2 separate regions of the Homo sapiens genome follow, and region 2 is reported to be linked to region 1. The links are microRNA targets in miRTarBase. Many come from high-throughput screens and were not tested one by one. Region 1 holds a microRNA gene; the other region holds the end of a gene's coding sequence.

The links. The annotated mature microRNA hsa-miR-495-3p reads AAACAAACAUGGUGCACUUCUU and lies in region 1 at 2,850-2,871, opposite strand. An mRNA with a match to its seed (bases 2 to 7 or 8) in the 3' UTR can be bound and repressed. Matches are read on the target gene's strand: a 7mer-m8 pairs with bases 2 to 8, a 7mer-A1 pairs with bases 2 to 7 and ends in A, and an 8mer does both.
Region 2: miRTarBase lists PCDH1 as a target of hsa-miR-495-3p. Seed matches in the 3' UTR shown: 7mer-A1 at 3,789-3,795.

Annotation. Positions count from the first base shown.
Region 1 is chr14:101,031,501-101,036,674 of GRCh38, reverse strand. It overlaps MIR495 (microRNA 495), which reads right to left and starts at 2,920; the gene lies at 2,839-2,920. It overlaps LOC124903407 (mucin-2-like), which reads right to left. Exons shown (of 5, transcript XM_047432049.1): 5 at 2,193-5,174. It overlaps MIR543 (microRNA 543), which reads right to left and starts at 4,688; the gene lies at 4,611-4,688.
Region 2 is chr5:141,849,757-141,854,756 of GRCh38, forward strand. PCDH1 (protocadherin 1) reads right to left here. Exons shown (of 5, transcript NM_032420.5): 5 at 3,334-4,680. The coding sequence ends at 4,286. Among named protein-coding and RNA genes, the nearest start is that of PCDH1, 26 kb to the right of the region's middle. RefSeq lists an enhancer at 1-269 and a silencer at 1-169.

The sequences.
Region 1 (5,174 bases):
GAGGCTGAGGCAGGAGAATGGGATGAACCCGGGAGGCGGAGCTTGCAGTGAGTCGAGATTGCGCCACTGCACTCCAGCCTGGGCAACAGTGTGAGACTCCGTCTCAAAAAAAAAAAAATCAGTTTGCCTCCCATGTAGTCACAAACATTCCCATCCTCCTCACGTATTTGCCATTTTTTTTTCCAGTGTATACCTATGTCCTCCCTATTCTTTAGAGTTTAAGCTTTGGCAATCAAGAGACAAGCTAGTGTATATTTTGCCATTCTTCTAAAACTCTGAAAACTGTGTTACACATGGTTTTGTTCATATTTCTTGGTCCATTTCTTAACAAGAAATTGGTGGTGTAGGACCTAACTTTTTATGTATAGATTTACCTTAGGAAACAGGATTATATGGTGATTCATTCAATAAAGTCTCAATTCTCAAAAGAAAAAACAAATAAAGGAAAACACTTGCCAGCTGTTCCACCATCTGCGCACATACCCTCTGCGAGGGGCTGACAGACACCCACACTGTGTTCCTGAACTTCACACCACGTACAGCAAGTCCTTCAAGGAGGCACTCAGTGCTTTAGGAGGTCCACTGTGGGGTATCTGCCACACACAGAGTGAACACATCACCAATAGCCTCCCTCCAACCATTCCTGGCCGGCTTCTGGGGTGCTGTCTCTCTTCCAGAGCCCAGGGTGTCCTCCTGCAAAGGAAACAGACGGCAAGGGTTAACACACAAGGATACGTACCATCAGAGATGCAAGGCTTCCTTGAGGCCCTCCTCTGACGTACCTGAGGTGATGGAGGCAACAGTGACCCTCTCCTGACATAAGCAGCAGTGAGAGCAGAATCCCCCCTCGATGGGAGACAAGGATCTGGTCGAAAGAGAACTGTCCATGTCGCGTCATCCAACAACTGTGCTTCCCCTTCCACAGGGGACTCAGAGCCAGTGTCCCCTCCAGAGGTCCTCAGGCTGAGGGTCCACCGGCCAAGTGGCACGTGTCATATACAGACTGTGGGGCCTGCCTTCTGCTCCCACAGCTGCACCTTCCCTGAAGTGGGCACCCCATCATTTAGAAAGGTGGCACTCAAATGAGTAAAACAGGTTGACTATGCAGGCCACAGCTTGGACAGCCTTTCTTGATGGAATGTCCTGACATGAAGACCGGTGCTGCTTCTCCAAAGTGTTTCTGCCACCGGGAAGTTCTCTGGAGGGAGGCCAGAGCCCAAAGGATGGGTGGAGCAGCTGCCCACTGTCTGAAGGGCACCTGCTGAGGCCAGCATGGTCCCAGTGTCACCAATGGACTGCCGTTAGCATCTCCTTCCAGAAGTGGGTTCTGACCTTTCCCGATGGCACATGATTCTCAAATAGAAGTGCACCATATTTTTCATCATAAATAAAGGGAAAAAACACAGATAACCTCTCCTCCAGTACCAAAGTGTAGCCCGGAGAGCAGTCCCACAGCCTCTAGTTCTGGCTGGCAGAGCTCCAGGAAGCCCTCCTGGGGGACAGGGATGCTGAGGTTCGGGGGACAGGGATGCTGAGGTTCAGAGGACCAGGTGGCCGTGGGGATGACGCGTATGCTCTCTGGGCAACACCCATCACTCACCCCAGAGAGCTGCTGATGCCACCAAAGCTCCCAGCTCAAACAGCCTTTCCCTTCAAGTGGGATTTGATACTGAAAAAAGAGTGGCCAAAAATGATTCGTCACAAATAAAATGAACACACTGGGGAAACCTCTTCTCTTCCAGGGCCCAAGGATGGACTGAATGTGGGGACTGGACACCCGGACAGCAGTGTCTTCGGGAAGGCATGTGTTCTGCCGTCAGCCATTGTTCACTGCTCCCGATTTGGGGCAGACACCAATGTCAGACACCATCTCTCTGATGCTGGTGATCAAGGAGCACATCTCTCAGAGGCAGAACTGGCACCTAGAAAGAGTGGGGCGGGGGCTGGGCGCACTGGCTCATGCCTGTAATCCCAGCACTTTGGGAGGCCAAGGTGGGTGTGGATCATGAGGTCAGGAGTTCAAGACCAGCCTGGCCAACATGGTGAAACCCCGTCTCTGCTAAAAATACAAAAAATTAGCTGGGCCTGGTGGCGGGCGCCTGTAATCCCAGCTACTTGGAAGGCTGAGGCAAGAGAATCGCTTGAACCTGGGAGGCAGAGGTTACAGTGAGCCAAGATCGTGCCATTGCACTCCAGCCCAGGAGACAGTGCGAGACTCTGTGTCAAAAAAAAAAGAAAGAAAAAAAGAAAAGAAAAGTAAAGAAAGAGCGGGGCAGGGAGGATTAGGCTCCAGTAAATCACCACTCTGAGAAATCCCATCTCCCAGAACCACAGGGACGCCTTCTGCCACAATTGCTACCCCCAATCAATTCTTCTGTGGAGGTGCGGGTGGCAGTCCCCCAGATGGCATGTCCTCATGTCCCCTTCAGCCATCCCCTCAAGCCTCTGGAGAGAGCGGATGGGGGCAGGGGTCTTCATTGCTTATTTGTTTTTGTTGTTGTGGCAGCTGCTTCCTTTTTTATTTTTTTCTTGGCTGCTATGATCTGAACTCTTCTCAAATGTTGGGGAACGCTTCTCAATGGAGCCTGGAAGTGCATCTCCCCAGCCTCCCTGGCAGCGGGGAACTGGCATGTGGTTGAGGCCTCGCCAACTGTGCCTGTCCGAGAGGTGGGCGTGGACTGAGGACTGAGGACTGAGCATGGTCCCTGAGCCCACCAACACACAAAGTCACCGAGGGGCTGCCAGGACAAATCCTCCATGTACATACCAAGAGAGGTAGTGACACCAGGTCCCATGCTCAGGGTCCCGTCGGGGATGGAGGCACTTCAAGGAGATATTTGATACCGAAAAAGAAGTGCACCATGTTTGTTTCGTCACATATAAAGCGAAAATAACATGGGCAACTTCTTTTCAGGTACCAGAGATGAGCACGTCCTCCCTGCCAGAGGCACACCTGGGCGTGAAGGGACACTGAGGGTCAGGGCGTGAGGGCAGGGCCGGGCAGACGCTGCCAATCAAACTTATGCTCAATTAAGCCTAAAAGCATCAGGTAAGTTGGCTCACCCCAGGGGAGGTGGGGGACATGCTTCGAAGGGCTGGGCTGACACTGAGCAGAGGCGGACAGTCATCACGGATAAAGCAAACCGATCCCAGACTCCCTCTACTTCGGGATCCCAGGAAGTCTTCATGGGCAGAATTCAATAATCAGGGCAGACGGCTTTCGGAATGTTTACTATCAACCCTGCAAATGCTCATGGAGAGCATCACTTCAGAGAAAATGGGATGGTCCTGGACCCAAAAATAGAATCTCCTCCATGAGCCCATGGTTCCAGGAAGGAGATGGGAAGACAAAGATATCGAATCAGGAGAAACAAACCACCAAGGCAGCCCCGGCTCTCGGTGGACCCATCTCTCTGTGCACCTTGCATGGTGCTGACCACTGCACCTCCTCTCTAAAGTGCTCCGGGTTCCCTGGAGGCATGGCTTGGTTCTAAAACACTGACAGTTAAGTGTGAGTTGTGACAAATACAGCCAACCCACAGAGAGCCAAAGGACAGCAGGGGCCAGGAAAGGACAACGGCTTCCCCAAGTCCACATCACTTGCAGGGCAGCCTCCCAGAGAGAGGTGGATTCGAGGGAGAGTGAATCGGGGCAGAAGTTCTGGGGCCCACCATCCATCAGGCCTTCCAGAGAGGACCCAGTGACCCATTGCTGGACACAAAACACGGTAATTGTGCATCATTTGTCAACCATAAATTAAATCACTAAGACAAAGCTTTGAAAGCATAAGTCCATAAGAAAAGTCACCTTCCACCAAAACCCTGCCTTAAATAGGACACTGAAGATAGATAGGCAAACCGTGAGAAACACATCATTGAAAAAAATGCAGGCTTTCCCAGTCACACTGGAAAACACACTGTGGTATCATCTGTTTGTATTGCAAGTAAGATAAGATCTAACTCCAACTGGCTTAAACAAGTAAGGGATTTATAGACGTATATAACTAAAAAGTACAGAGACAGAGCAAGCTTCAGGCAGGGTTTGATCTAGGGACTCAAATGATATCATCCAGGCTCTTCTCTAGGTCTCCAAGATGCCTTTCATGGTACAGACTCCCTCTGCTGTGTCTGCGTGGCACCAAGCCCTCTCCTCTCAGTCCTTAAACGGCTGTGGGACCTTCGAAGCTCACGTCAAAGTTCACTGTCTATTCCCAGCTGAATGGAATAGACAGTGTCTACTCTGGCAGCTATCACAGGAAAGGGAGAAACAGTTTCTTTCCCAGAAGCTGCAGCAAGCATCTCCTTGCCTATCACTGGCCCAGTGGGGTCATGGGCCTATTCCGGAAGCAATTGCAGTGGCAAAGGAGAAGAGATCAAGAGATTCGCTTAAGCCTGGGCTGGTGGAGGAAGTGGGGCAGGGTCAATGCAATCAAAGCACACGGCGGGAAGACGGGAGCTTTCATAAAAAAAAAAAAAAAAAAAAAAAACAAGGAGAAATTTAGGAAGGAGAAAAGACATGGGGTAGGGAGGTCCTGATCAGCGTCCACTACAGGGGCCCATGTGCCTTCCCTGAAGTTGCACCCAAACCAAGACGTCTTCAAGGCAGAATAGGATACTGAAAAAGAAGTGCACCGCGAATGTTTCGTCACAAATAAAGCGAAAAAAACACGGGCAACTTCTCATTAAGTACCGCACGTCAGCACCGTTGACAACACTGCTTCTCCGCGGCTGGTATCACTCCTGCGGGCTTCCTGAGAGCACATGGGTCCTGATGCGCACCGGGCAACCGGTGACAAAGATATGGCCGTGCATACAACCCCCTCAAGACCTGGGAGACATCTAACAGGTCTGCCCCCTCTGCACAGGTGGCATTGTGTCCTGGAGCTGCTTGTGAGCACGATGTGTTCAATTTCTCAATAACAAAAAGTCTCCTCCAGTAGCACAGAATATGACAATGGCACAGAAACAGTGATTTTGCATCCTAAAAGTCCTCCTGAGGATACATGAGGAGGGACCAGGAGAGTCACAATAACTCCCCAGATAAGATGGATGAGATCTACCACCCACCCTTTAGGGACAAACAGCAAAGTGTCTGCCCTGATGGAGCCTCTGAGCCAAGGGAGTCGTCATAGAATGGGTAGCGCAAGGGATTTTTTAACATTTGCCTCAAACAGA
Region 2 (5,000 bases), not on the chromosome of region 1:
GGCGGGGCCAGGAACCGGCTGATCCGGTCTCTGTTTTCCGACCTCTCCGGAGCGGGTGTTTACCCGGGAGCCGGACGGAGGAGGCCGGGGCCGGTCGAGCCCGGAAGGGGGGAGGGGAGCGCAGTCGGAGACCGAGGCTGAGACCTTTTCGGTTCCTTTCCCCTAAATCGACTTCCAACCCTCGTTCCTGAGCGTGGGAGAACGCGGCAGACAGACAGATGTCTCCCGCCCCTTATCCTATCCAGTTCCGCAATTCACACTCGTTGCCAAAGAGTGGGGAGCGGGAATGGATACACCCGGGAACGACTGCACGTCCTGCGGGCGCCCGGGGAAGAAGGCAGCGCAGCACAAAACCTCTCCTGCGGTCACCTCCCACCCCATCCTGCACCTGAGTTCTTGCGGGGAGGGGGTGCCCACAGCAGGTCGGGCCCAGAGGATCCGGCAGGGGTCACTTTGAGGTGTACGGACTAGGAGTCTATCCTCAGAACGCGTCAGCTCGACCCCATCCCCGATTAATACCAGTGCGGGTCTCAGTCTCTTGTCCCTCGCGTCCCCCAGCCCTCTCCAAGGCCTCCAGATTTAGCTCCCACTCTCCACGGGACGCAGGCCCGAGGACCCGGAAGAAGCTGAGTGGGGTCCGGTTTTCACACTTTTATTGTAAAGCTCGGGAATAATTACACGGGTCTTTCATTGACAGCTCAGCAAACAAACCGGAAACGAACCGAACCGGAGGGGGTAGGGGCGGTGCCTGCGCATGCTCGCGGCGGGGTGGGGGGGGGTGGGGGTGGGGGTGGGGGGGTCAGAGAAAGAGAAAGACAGAAAGAGACAGAAATCATTACAAATCAACGGGATTGTGCTCGCAGCGCCAGGGATGGGGTGGGGTGGGGCGGGGCGGGGGCCCTTCCCGGGAGGAGCGAGGCAGTGGGAAGTGGCACGAACCAAGAGAAACACGACCCCAATGTGGGCACCCGACGCGCCCAAAACCCCCCACCCCGACCCCCACCCCCCTACACACGAGAGAGACACGGCCCCCCTCCCCACTAGATAACCCGAGGAGACACAGTCTCCCCTCCCCATGGGCAGACACACCCGCCCGAAACCCCATGGGCGGGACACAGTCCCCCCTCCCAGAGAAGTCCCCAGTGGAGACGCCCCTTAAGAGACTTTCTCATGGCCAACACAAGCCCTCCCAACACCCGGAGACAGCCCCGACCCAGGGAAGAAATGGCTCCAGAGGCCCTACCCTCGGGAGAGAGAGGTATCCCAGGGCTCCTAGGAGAAAAGACAACTCAGAGATGCCCAGCCTCATCCTAAAGTGCTGCAGGGCAGAGAAACCCCCATAGGAGAGATGGGGGTAGGGCCAGAAACATCCCTTCCCAGACGTGTTTCAGAGATAGCCCCCTTCCCTGGGAAGAGAGATGGCCCGAAACTGACTTGCCTTAAGTACTCCCAGGAACCCTGGGAGGAAAACAGGCTCCCCAGAGAGCCTGGGTAATTGGGGGAGACATGCTCCCGTGGTCCTCAGCGGGAACACATGTCCCCCGGAGACTCCCAAGGGGAGAGATAGGGCCTAGAGAGACCCCAGAGGTGAGGGATGCCCAGAGAACTTCCCCCCACCCCGGAATGTGAAACATGCTTCAAGGACCCTAGGAGAGAAATATGTCCCCATATACCCTCCCCCTACGGAGAGACATGCCCTGAAGTAGGGGGATGGGGACCGACTAGGTCCCCTCTGGGAAGACACAGACTGGGTCAGGCTGGGTTTGAGGGGGGCTCTCCTCTGGCCAAATGTCGCCTATTGGTACATAAAACTGTACGCGACACAGGCATTGGGGAGGGGCTTCACAGACCTAGGACCCACAGGGATAGTCCCCAGTGCTGTCGCCAACCCCTGCCCACCTTTGGTTTCATCTCTCCAGTGCCCAGTTGGTGACAGACTCAGTGCCCTGGCCCCAACCAGGGGGCTGGGGGCTCTGTCTTTGCCTGTGGGAAGGGCTTCTCAGCTCTCCCAGCCATCTGGGCCACCCTCTTTCTTCTGGCTTCTCCATTGTGCAAAATGCTCCTCTGCTCTTCTGCTCAGTGCTCAGGGGTCTCTAAGACCAGGGCAAGGTACCCAGGCCACTAGGGGCTTCCAGTGGGAGTCCACTGACCCCAGGAATGCCGCCTGTCTGGACCACCTTCTCCACCAAGCAAATGGGCCTCATACAATCTTCTTGCCCGAATCCTGACCTCCAGGACCCAGGACAATCCTTGAGGCCACTGTTCCACCAGCTGGGCACCCAATACTACCAACTCCAAGACTATTGCACCTGCCCCATTTGTGCAGGGGAAAGGGGCTGTCTCTTTAACAAGCCCCAAGCCCATCTCCTGGGCCTCCCCAAGGGAAAGGAGCCTTTGGCCAACCCCTAGACCTGGCTGCTGCCACCCCATCCCATTCTACCCCTTCCCCTCTGTAGAAGGGCTTCGTATGCCAGGGCTACCAGCCTAACAATGCTCTCCTTCCTAGCACTGTCACCCCAAGCCAAGTTGGGGGTAAGGGGCAGATAAATAGGGTGATTCTTCAGGCCCCTGGCTTTTCCGGGGTGGGGGTGGGGTCTCTGGGGTACAAGAGTCAAGACCCCAGCAGCACAGCTCCCAAAGGCACCAGACGACCCCGCAGCCTGTACCCACCGCTCGCAATCTTGGACCACCTCCCCAAGCTTAGACTAAGTCAAGCAAGGGCCATACCCTGAGTCTCCAGCCTCCCAGCCTGGGCCCCTAGGGAGCTGGAGAGGTATGGGCCAAGGCAGTGGGGGTTTCTGGAAGGAAGAGGGGCTGAGGCTTTGAGATGGCCACAGTGGGAGACGGGGGCTCTGCAGGACGCCCCTTACACCCTGGCCCCCTGAGGTGAAGAAGAGAACTTCACCTCATCATGGCTGACTGGGCTTCTCTGCCCCCCAACCTCCCTACCCCCTCCCCCATGGGACCCCTGACCCTGACAAAGGGAAGCCCAACTGGAAGAAGGGGGCCTGGAGCCCAGGGTGCCCTGAGGCAGCCCTCCCACCCCCTGAGATCAAGGCAATGGTGGTTTTACAGGCTGACGGGTCAGTCATGGCAGGGGCTGGGGGTTGAGAGGGCAGGGAGGGGGCAGGATGCAGGCCCCCTATATCGGGAGCAGCACCCAGCCACCCCCTGAGCAAACCTTCCTGCTCCCAACTCACCCAACCAGGCCAGAGGCACAGTCATCCCACCCCTGTCCAGCTGCCCCCCACAGCCTCAGGGCCCCTCTGTGATGCTCATCTGGATGTGGGAGGCCAGCCTGAGCGGGGATCCCCCCAGGGCACAGCGCAACAGTTCCAAAAAAATAGAGATTTGTATTTTTAAGAAAAATTAAATAAAAGCCCAGCTCTGCTGATAGGCAAATGTTACCCCCGTCCCCACCCCCACCCACCCGTTGTTTCCCTGGCCTGCACCCCCATCCCACCATGGCCCCAGGGGTATTTACAACATGGAACAATAGAGGCCTGGGTTGGGGGGCACTGCGGCAGGGAGGAGGGGGCACAGGGCAGGTCCCCCCCCAGAGGGGTCCCCCAAGACAACACGACATCAACAAGAAAAGTTGCAAATCAGGCAGAAATGGGGACGTCATTCCAAGGTCCTTATATACAGACACTGCATGACCAGCAGGGAATGGGGGCCCAGATGGGACTAGGCGTGGGCATGTGGCAGGCAGGTGGGCCAGTCCAGGAGCAGCACGGGAAAACAAGGCCTCCGCTCCACTCCCACCCCCGTCCCTACCCCACCTTTGGTAACAAAAGCCCTTCAGGGAGCCACTGGTGGTCAAGAGTTTCCTCTGGGAGCTCCCAGGGAAAGGGGCTCCCCAGTTCAGCCCTGCTTCAGGGCTAAAATTGGGCATGCTATCCCCGCCCTGGTCGGCCATGAGGGAAACAATGAGTTAGAAGTACGCTGCCCACCCTTGACTCCACCATCTGCCCAAATCGAGGGGGTGCTCCCTGGAAGTCAAGGGAAGGAGCCCAGTCATTGCAGAGGAGCCCTCTTGGGCATCAGATGGGGGAAGCCCCATAAAGGGGAAGGGGCCCCTGGGGGCTGGGAGATGGAAATGAGGGGAGAGGACCTGGACCCTGCATGGGAGAAGGGCCAGCGTGGTCATGAGGTCAGTGATACCCCCACTTGGGGCCCTGGCCAGGAAGTCCACGCTGAAGGGGTGGAGAGTGAGGCCCTGGAATGGGCCATTTGGGAGCTGGCCGGCGGCTGGGGGAGGGGGGCCGGCCGGCCAGTAGGGGGCTCACAGGTAGATCTCGCGCTTGGCCGTCTGGGCAGATGCCGGTGTGGCTGCGGGTGGGAAGTCCGAGGTCTGGGTCAGGGGGATTTCCTCCAAGGTGGCCGAGTCCTTGCAGGAATCATGGCTACTGTGGGAGAAGGCACTGTAGGAGGGCAGGAGGCGCACGGGGGCCGTTTTGGTGTTCCGGTCTTCCGGGGGGCTGGGGCTGCCGGCGCCCGCAGGCTCCTGCCCTCCTCGGTCCTGGTAAGGCACGAAGGTGGAGAGTTTGAGGGCGCTGCTCTTGGTCCGGCGGCTGGGAGATGACTGGCCAGGCATCCAGCATGTGTCAGAGTGGCCAAACTCACTGCACTCCCGGGTACATGTGCCTGTCATGGCGACATCAGGCAAAGGGCGAAGGTCTGTAGGAGGGAGCGGGGAAGGACAATTGTCAGACATACAGCCTCTGCAAAGCTCTGCTTCATGGCCTCCCACTGGCATCTACACCCCACCTCAGGACAGGAGTATGCGCCCCTTCCTGACCGCTGAACTCACAGGCACACACACCCTCAAAGAGACACATGCCCTCCCACCATCGACCTACTGGCCTACTGTACACACGCACACGCACACACACATAATCTATCTTTTTTCTTTTTCTTTTTCTTTGTTTTGAGATGGAGTCTTGCTCTTGTCACCCAGGCTGGAGTGCAATGGCGCAATCTCGGCTTACTGCAACCTC